Homo sapiens: one gene and its partner. The protein of the gene in region 1 interacts with the protein of each later gene in a pairwise test. Each region holds a gene or a part of one and is shown on either strand. Other genes may lie near its edges. The genes, in order: UPK1B and SLC16A2.

Region 1 (3,822 bases):
TTAAGGAAACTGAGGCTTAGACAGTTTAAGTAACATGTCAATGGCTACAGGGTTCACTAATGACTAGTAAAGTAGGAAGTGTAAAAATTCTTTTACAAACTGTAAAATGTAAGTTGTAAGTTATCAATACCTTCAGCTGTCATTTGGGGATTTCTTAGTAAATGTAAGATATGGTACACTTTCCGTATCTTCTTTCTCTATAAAATTTCAGTTGCTACATTGATGGCTCTAGTAGGGACCACGAAAGAGAATTTTGTATCTCTCATCTGCTGACAGGACAATTGCTGTGGCGTAAATGGTCCATCAGACTGGCAAAAATACACATCTGCCTTCCGGACTGAGAATAATGATGCTGACTATCCCTGGCCTCGTCAATGCTGTGTTATGAACAATCTTAAAGAACCTCTCAACCTGGAGGCTTGTAAACTAGGCGTGCCTGGTTTTTATCACAATCAGGTGAGTCCTCTCTCCTCCCAAGACTTCCCAGGAGGTTCTGCTGCTCTTTATGAGAAAAATATTGGTCAACTGTAGGAAATAGTCTTTCAGTAAGGAATTCTACATTCTTTTCCCTAAACCTCATGTTAACTATTTCCTTCTCTGTTAATAAACTGCAAATGCTAAACCAGGACTGATAGGGGCAAATTTACATTTTAATAAAATTAACAAAACATGAGAATTGCAATAGCAGAACCCAACTTTGTTTAAATGAAGACAATTTGCACAATGTATGGAATTGGTATGTCAAGAAATATTTACATTAAACAAAGTTTTGCTCTAGTTTTGCAAAATGTAAATTGGAAGGGATGATGTGCAAAAAGAATGTTTTGCCAATTCCAAAGCAATGACTATTGCTGAGGATAAATGTAGTAATTACACATCCACATTCCTTATTCAATGGTAAAGTAGGACAGTCTTAATAAACATTAGGTTGGTGATTTGGATGGAAGGTAGTTTACATACAGATAGTTTTTGAAAAAGTTTCCAGGCTGATGAGGATAATGTGATTACGATCATGAAAACTAACATTTATTGTGTACTTACTAAATGCCAAACACTGTTTCCAGTGCCACACATACACTATCTCCTTTAATGCTCAGTAGTAGGTGCCAGTAGGATCCCTGTTTTACAAACGAAGAACTTAGACGTAGAGATACTAATAAATACCTTGCTGAGGTCACACAACTAGTAAATGTCCGTCTTTTCAAAAAACTCTCTGGCTTTTGAAACATGAGTTTTCTGCCTTCAAGCACAGACTCTAAGCCAGTGAAGACTTGTTAATATTCCCCAAAAGCCCTGATGAGAACCTCCAGGTACTTGTAGTCAGCATCTGCTGACCCTGTACACTGAAACGCTGTGCTCTGCTCAGGGAGTTACCTCTTTAAGGAAAGCTAGTTGTGTACCAGCTCATTAAATAATTGAGAAATGTCAGGCTGTTTTGTTTGGGAGCAGTACAAACTGCATGTTCAGATTGAGGGACATGGCACTGTTGCTGACAGGGTGCCTGGACTAGAACTGGATGCATTATTCCAGAAAAGGGCATGGGAGTGTTCTAGATTATTTTGCAGCAGTGTCCAGAGCAACCCTCATTGAGCTTTACTGCAACATTGTCTGGCATTGTTTTAATCAATTATATTCAGACTGTTATTAAAAATTAAATTTGCTGCTTATAATCAAGGTGTACAATATAATTATTCTCAGGACTATAAAAGGCTTTTGATATTTCAACACTGGAACTGCTCATGCAAACAAATCTTGATTGGATTGTAATTGTGTACAAACTGTATTACCTCTTTGAAAGGGATAAAAATAGGACATTTGTCTTCAGATAACCAGTTTATTTCATAGTTATACCTTTTTTCCTAGCACATATAATATTTTAGTTATGAGGACAAACCTGAAGCTTTTCTCAAGTTTAGATAGATGAGAAATTGAGGAAAAGATACAAATGAACTATTTTCCTCTACCTTGGGACCTCCACACCCATTTTGACAATGCTTCTAACACGTTCCCTTACAGTTCCCTGGCCTCATCTGTTCTAACAATTCCACCTCCACTACCCTACAGTTCCCTGGCTTTATCTGTTCTAACAACTCCACCTCCACTACCTACCAACTACAAATTCATCATCACTCAGCCCTACTCCTCCACCAAATTCCTGAATTCTGAAATTCCTCTCTCTGTTCCTGACTTCCTGTGCTCCTTGTTTCTCAACCTCACTCATTCTGCTCCTTTGACATAATCTCTTATCTATTAGTCCTTTCTGATTCTCCCTAGCCCAGCCTCCCAGATTCCCACACACCACCATTCTCCCTGACTCATAGGTCTTGCTAAGTCCCCTCTTGCCATCCTTTTCCACCAAGAAAAAGGTGCTACCCCAAGACCTGGTATACTTTATTTCTATTATTGCATTCACTACCTGGAACTATATTTGTTCCCAAGTCTATTTTTTCTGAGTCTCCTTGAGGACTATGTATTATTTGATTCTACAGATTTGATATTTTTAGTACTTAGCATAATGCCTGGCACAAAGCAAGCACCGACGTTTGATAGATGGGTGAATAAAGAAGTGAATAGTGAATGGTTTTTCTTTTTCTTTTTTTTTTTTTTTTTTTGAGATGGAGCCTGTCTCACTCTGTCGCCAGGCTGGAGTGCAGTGGCGCTATCTCGGCTCACTGCAACCTCCACCTCCCAGGTTCAAGTGATTCTCCTGCCTCAGCCTCCCAAGTAGCTGGGACTACAGGTGCACGCAACCACACCCAGCTAATTTTTGTATTTTTAGTAGAGATGGGGTTTCACCATGTTGGCCAGGATGGTCTCGATCTCTTGACCTTGTGATCCACCCACCTCAGCCTCCCAAAGTGCTGGGATTAAAGGAGTGAGCCACCGTGCCCAGCCTGGTTTTTGTTTTGTTTTGTTTGAGAGACAGGGTCTCACTCTGTCACCCAAGCTGGAGTGCCATGCTGCAATCACAGCTTATTGCAGCCTCAAGCTCCTGGGCTCGAGTGATCCTCCTTTCCACCTCAGCCTCCCAACTAACTACAGGCATGTACCACCAGGCCTGGCTAATTTTATTTTTTGTAGAGATGAGGTCTCACTGTGTTGCCCAGGCTTCACTTTTTGACAACCATATTGTAGGTTTTCAGGATCTACAATGCACAAATGTGCTGCTATAGCTGTGAAGACTAACAAAATTAGGGAAGTCACTATAAGCTTGTTAATAGTAGAAATTAACTAGAATTTCACACAGCATGTCAGATGCAAATATATATATATTCTATGTTATGGTTTATGTGACTCAGAAATGCTATGTGCAAATTGTGATCACTATACCTCAAAAATGTTATAATAAAATGAAGGAAGATCAAGTAAAGTACCACTAAATTGACTAGCATCACGAAAAGGCACTAAATGATGGTGAAAAAAATGGGGCTTCTGTCTGTGAGCTTCATGAAGGCAAGGCCCATTTCTGTTTGCCACAGCTAAATGCCCAGCCAGTACTTGGCACCTGGCATAAGTGGGCCCTTATATATATATTATTAGATGAACGACCACCTCCCAGGATTGTTGGGAGGACCAAGGAGTAGCAGATATGGGAGTGTTTTGTGAACCATCAAGTGTGTTGCAAATTATACTATTGTAAACATTAATGTTCCATTCATTCTGTAAATGTTTATTACGTGTCTACTATGTGCCAAGCACTTGTTCTAGGTTCTAGAAATTCAACAGTGAACAACATAAAATCCCTGCCCTCATGGAGCTTGCATTCTAGCATGGGAGACAGAAAATAAACATGTTACCAAACAAATACATGATAAAATTCCA
Region 2 (3,822 bases), on another chromosome or scaffold:
ATTTTGTGTGCTGCAAAATTTTTCTGTCTATGGCTTGCCTTTTCATTTTCATAACTATTTTTGAAAAGCAGAAGTTTTCAAGTTTGATCAAGTCTAATATATCAAATCTTTTCTTTTATGGATCATACGATTTGTGAATATCTGCAAAATCTTTGCCTAACCAAAGGCCAGGAAGATTTGTCTCCTATATGTTCTTCTAGAAGTTTTATAGTTTTAAGTTTTACATTAAGTCTATGATCCATTTTGCATTGATTTTTAAACATGATGTGATTATTGATATTTACAAAGTTCTCTTCTTATACATATAATTTTATCTGATTTTTTTTTTTTCTTTAGATGGAGTCTCACTCTGTCACCCAGCCTGGAGCGCAGTGGTGAGATCTCGGCTCACTGCAAGCTCCGCCTCTTGGGTTCAAGCGATTCTCCTGCCTCAGCCTCGCTAGTAGCTGGAACTACAGGCGCCCGCCCCCACACCCAGCTAATTTTTTGTATTTTGAGTAGAGACGGGGTTTCACTGTGTTAGCCAGGATGGTCTCTATCTCCTGACCTCGTGATCTGCCTGCCCTGGCCTCCCAAAGTGCTGGGATTACAGGCGTGAGCCACCACGCCTGGCCCTGATCATCAGCGGATCACAAGGTCAGGAGATCGAGACCATCCTGGCTAACACAGTGAAACCCCGTCTCTACTAAAAACACACAAAAAAATTAGCCGGGCGTGGTGGCAGGCACCTGTAGTCCCAGCTACTCAGGAGGCTGAGGCAGGAGAATGGTGTGAACCCAGGAGGCGGAGCTTGCAGTGAGGCAAGATCGGGCCATTGCATTCCAGCCTGGGTGACAAAGCAAGACTGTGTCTCAAAAAAAAAAAAAAACAAAAAAAAAACGAAAGAAAGAAAAAGAAAAAGAAATGTTTGAGGCAGGCACAAGCAGAAATTTTAATCTCCATTTCACAGATGAGAAAACTGAGGATTAGAGAAATGCTGTGTGACTTCTCAAGATCTCACAGCTGATAGGAGATGAAATGGCAAGGTAAGAGGTGAAATTGTGATAAAAAGTTAAGGTCTCCTGCTGTCCCAGGCTAGTACTTTTGAAGCCAGGCAGAGAGGGCTCAGGGTAAGGCTCCAACAAAGTAAAGATTCCCAATGGGGAGCTGAGCAACCTATTTGGCACTGAGGTAAGAGACACAGCCAGTTGACTAGCCCCAGACTGAGCTCCTTTGGCCCATTGGGGCTCCACAATTGGAGAGAGCCAGAAGTTGGCCCAGTGCCTAGCTCATGTGTCACTCTTTGATGATGATGATGAAGAGCTGGAAGTGTTCAAAGGAGAGTTCTGAAATTAATTTCAGAGTTAGAAATTAAAGCTAAGAGGAAAAGTTAAGGAAACGAAGATTATTTGGCGGAGAAAAGAGAGGCTCAAGATGAAACTTGATAACAGCCTTCAGACGAAATAAAAAAAAAAGCTTGAACTTTCCTTCTGAGGGCTGAGCAAAGGGAAACAGTCTGGAAGAATCTAAATAAAAGGGCAAGTTCCTTCCTCCTTAGTGAGGATTGTTATAGACACTTAAGAGCCTTTAGAAACAGGATAATATCTGCTTGAGTTTGAAGTCAGGAATTTGCCAAACATGGGCTCTGATGACGGATTTCAGCATGAGGGTTACATGACTCTTGCACAGTGTCCTTAGAAATCTTTAGGTGGCCTATGAACTTGCCTTGTATCCTAGTACAATTCCAGGGGGCTTTTGTCTGTGGCCTTCTCTACTCCTTAGTCTTATCGTCTTCACAGGGTTCTTCTAATGCTGGAGACAAGCCTGACCTTAGCTCCTGAAAGCTTAACCCCAATGTTTTTTGCCCCTGAAGCCAGTGGCTTAGAACCTAAGGCTATAGATCTGGCTTAGCATCCCTGGAAAGGCCTGAAATATTGACTAGTCCAAATCTTACCGCAGTGATAGAATCCCCTGTTTTATATCTAGTCTCTTCTTGCAAAACTCTCTGAACATCAGGGACTAGCAAGCTGGCAATGCAGACCAATGCAATGCCCCCTGTGAAAGGCCAGAGAAGAAGAGCTGAGATACCAGCAGTACCACCAGGCACTACACTAAGCTAAAGTGTCTTTGCACTTGTTTTCTCTGCAGCATGGGTCGGAGCCCTCGCGATGGGTATGATCTTCTTCTGTTCTCCCATTGTGAGTATATTCACTGACCGTTTGGGCTGCCGAATCACAGCAACCGCGGGGGCTGCCGTTGCTTTCATTGGCCTCCATACCAGCTCCTTCACCAGGTAAGGCTAAGAGTTGGTGGTTATTTCCCCAAGGCTGAGGGTTGGTTTTTTTCTGGGCTTTAGCTAGGGTTACTTTTCTCACTGCAGAATCCCCTGTGGCCATGGCCCTGTAGGGCCCTCAAAGATCCTGCACCCTGGATTCAGAATCCAGTGAATTCATCTGGGTAGGGTCCCCAGGACACATTGGTAGGGAATATCCCCAGAGAGGACCTAAGAGTTCCAAAGTGGTAGGAGTACTCTAAGCCTGGTAGTTCGTAGAGCTGGGCCCAAGTCCGGTTTTGGCCACTGAATGGCAATGGAACAATTGATGAGTACCATTGTTCTCTCTGTGCCTCAATTTCTATATCTGTAACATGAGGGGATTTGACCATATGGTCTTTTTACATCTCTTTCAACTCTGCTATTTGATTCCCCTTCAGTGTGCCACACATCTCACAACCTCACTTTCCATCCCAAGATTGAGCTTCTCGAGTGAGCCCATGTGAACACCTAGCACAGGATTCCCAAAGGAATCTTATGCTGAAAAAAGAGGTCAACTGAGCCCAAGGATGTTTAGCATTTCTGACTCTTTTCCAGATAGCTCAGGCTGCTGACATATGGATGATTTGGGACAGATAATGATTTACATCATGGGCATCAGAAGGATGATTAGCAATATCCCTTACTGAGATACAAACCCAGAACCCAGCTACCCAGCTAGGCCTGGGCTAAACTGAAACCCTAGTCCCACTGGTTCCACTGGCAGAACTTGGCAGTATCAGGTGAGAAGCAGGCTCTAGGTTCATTTTCTGCTTTCTTTTCTGCCAGCCCTGCAGAAGAATGTGTGTAGGGTAAGGGAGAATAAATACCCTAACCACAGCCTGAGGAATATGGAATTCCTAAAGAACTCTGTTGACTTTCTGCCAAAGACACTTTGGAAGTTATGGTACCTCCTACTTCCAATCTGCTTGGGCCGATGTAGGGGAATGCCAGCCTGGAAACACAGAAATGAGAAATGGCCGTGGTGACATGTCTGGGATGAGGTCAGAGCTAATTTGTCAGAGACTTGCTTTCTGAGCTTAGTTACCCAGAAAAGCGTCATGGCTCTCTAGGCCTAAGGTTCCACTCACAGTAGAGAATGATAATTGTGTTTTGCCTTAACTGGGCCCTGTGAGGTAAGCCAGCTTTCTTTATGACTTGAGCATTTCCAGCTGCCCAGCCTACCCTACAGCAGAGCTTGGATTTGGCCTGCAGTCATTTCTTGGCTTCGTCCTGTCCAACTGGGACAGAGAAGGGAAAAACCGTGTCCTGCCTGGAAACTACTCAGCACTCCCAGGGCAGCAGCTCCAAACCTTTTCAGAACCCCTCTGGTGGTCAGCCTCATTCACCCCCAGCAAGCTGGTGCCTGGCTCCTTGTGGGGAGGAGCTAGGCTTCAAAAGCAGCTCCAGTCTCAGCACTATACAGCAAAGGTCTGTTTTTTAAGACCGAGCAGAGCAAAGTGTAAACGGATTAGCAACATATGGATTCCATTTCCCTTCCAATCCACATGGGCTCAATTACAGGAGGGGAA

What was found.
Region 2: the proteins of UPK1B (region 1) and SLC16A2 interact in a two-hybrid assay, tested with the Homo sapiens proteins (one large-scale study listed by BioGRID).

Annotation. Positions count from the first base shown.
Region 1 is NC_000003.12:119,193,943-119,197,764, forward strand, and holds part of UPK1B (uroplakin-1b), read left to right. Parts: intron 1-276; coding exon 277-456; intron 457-3,822. UniProt on the Homo sapiens protein: Component of the asymmetric unit membrane (AUM); a highly specialized biomembrane elaborated by terminally differentiated urothelial cells.
Region 2 is NC_000023.11:74,518,863-74,522,684, forward strand, and holds part of SLC16A2 (monocarboxylate transporter 8), read left to right. Parts: intron 1-2,127; coding exon 2,128-2,272; intron 2,273-3,822. UniProt on the Homo sapiens protein: Specific thyroid hormone transmembrane transporter, that mediates both uptake and efflux of thyroid hormones across the cell membrane independently of pH or a Na(+) gradient.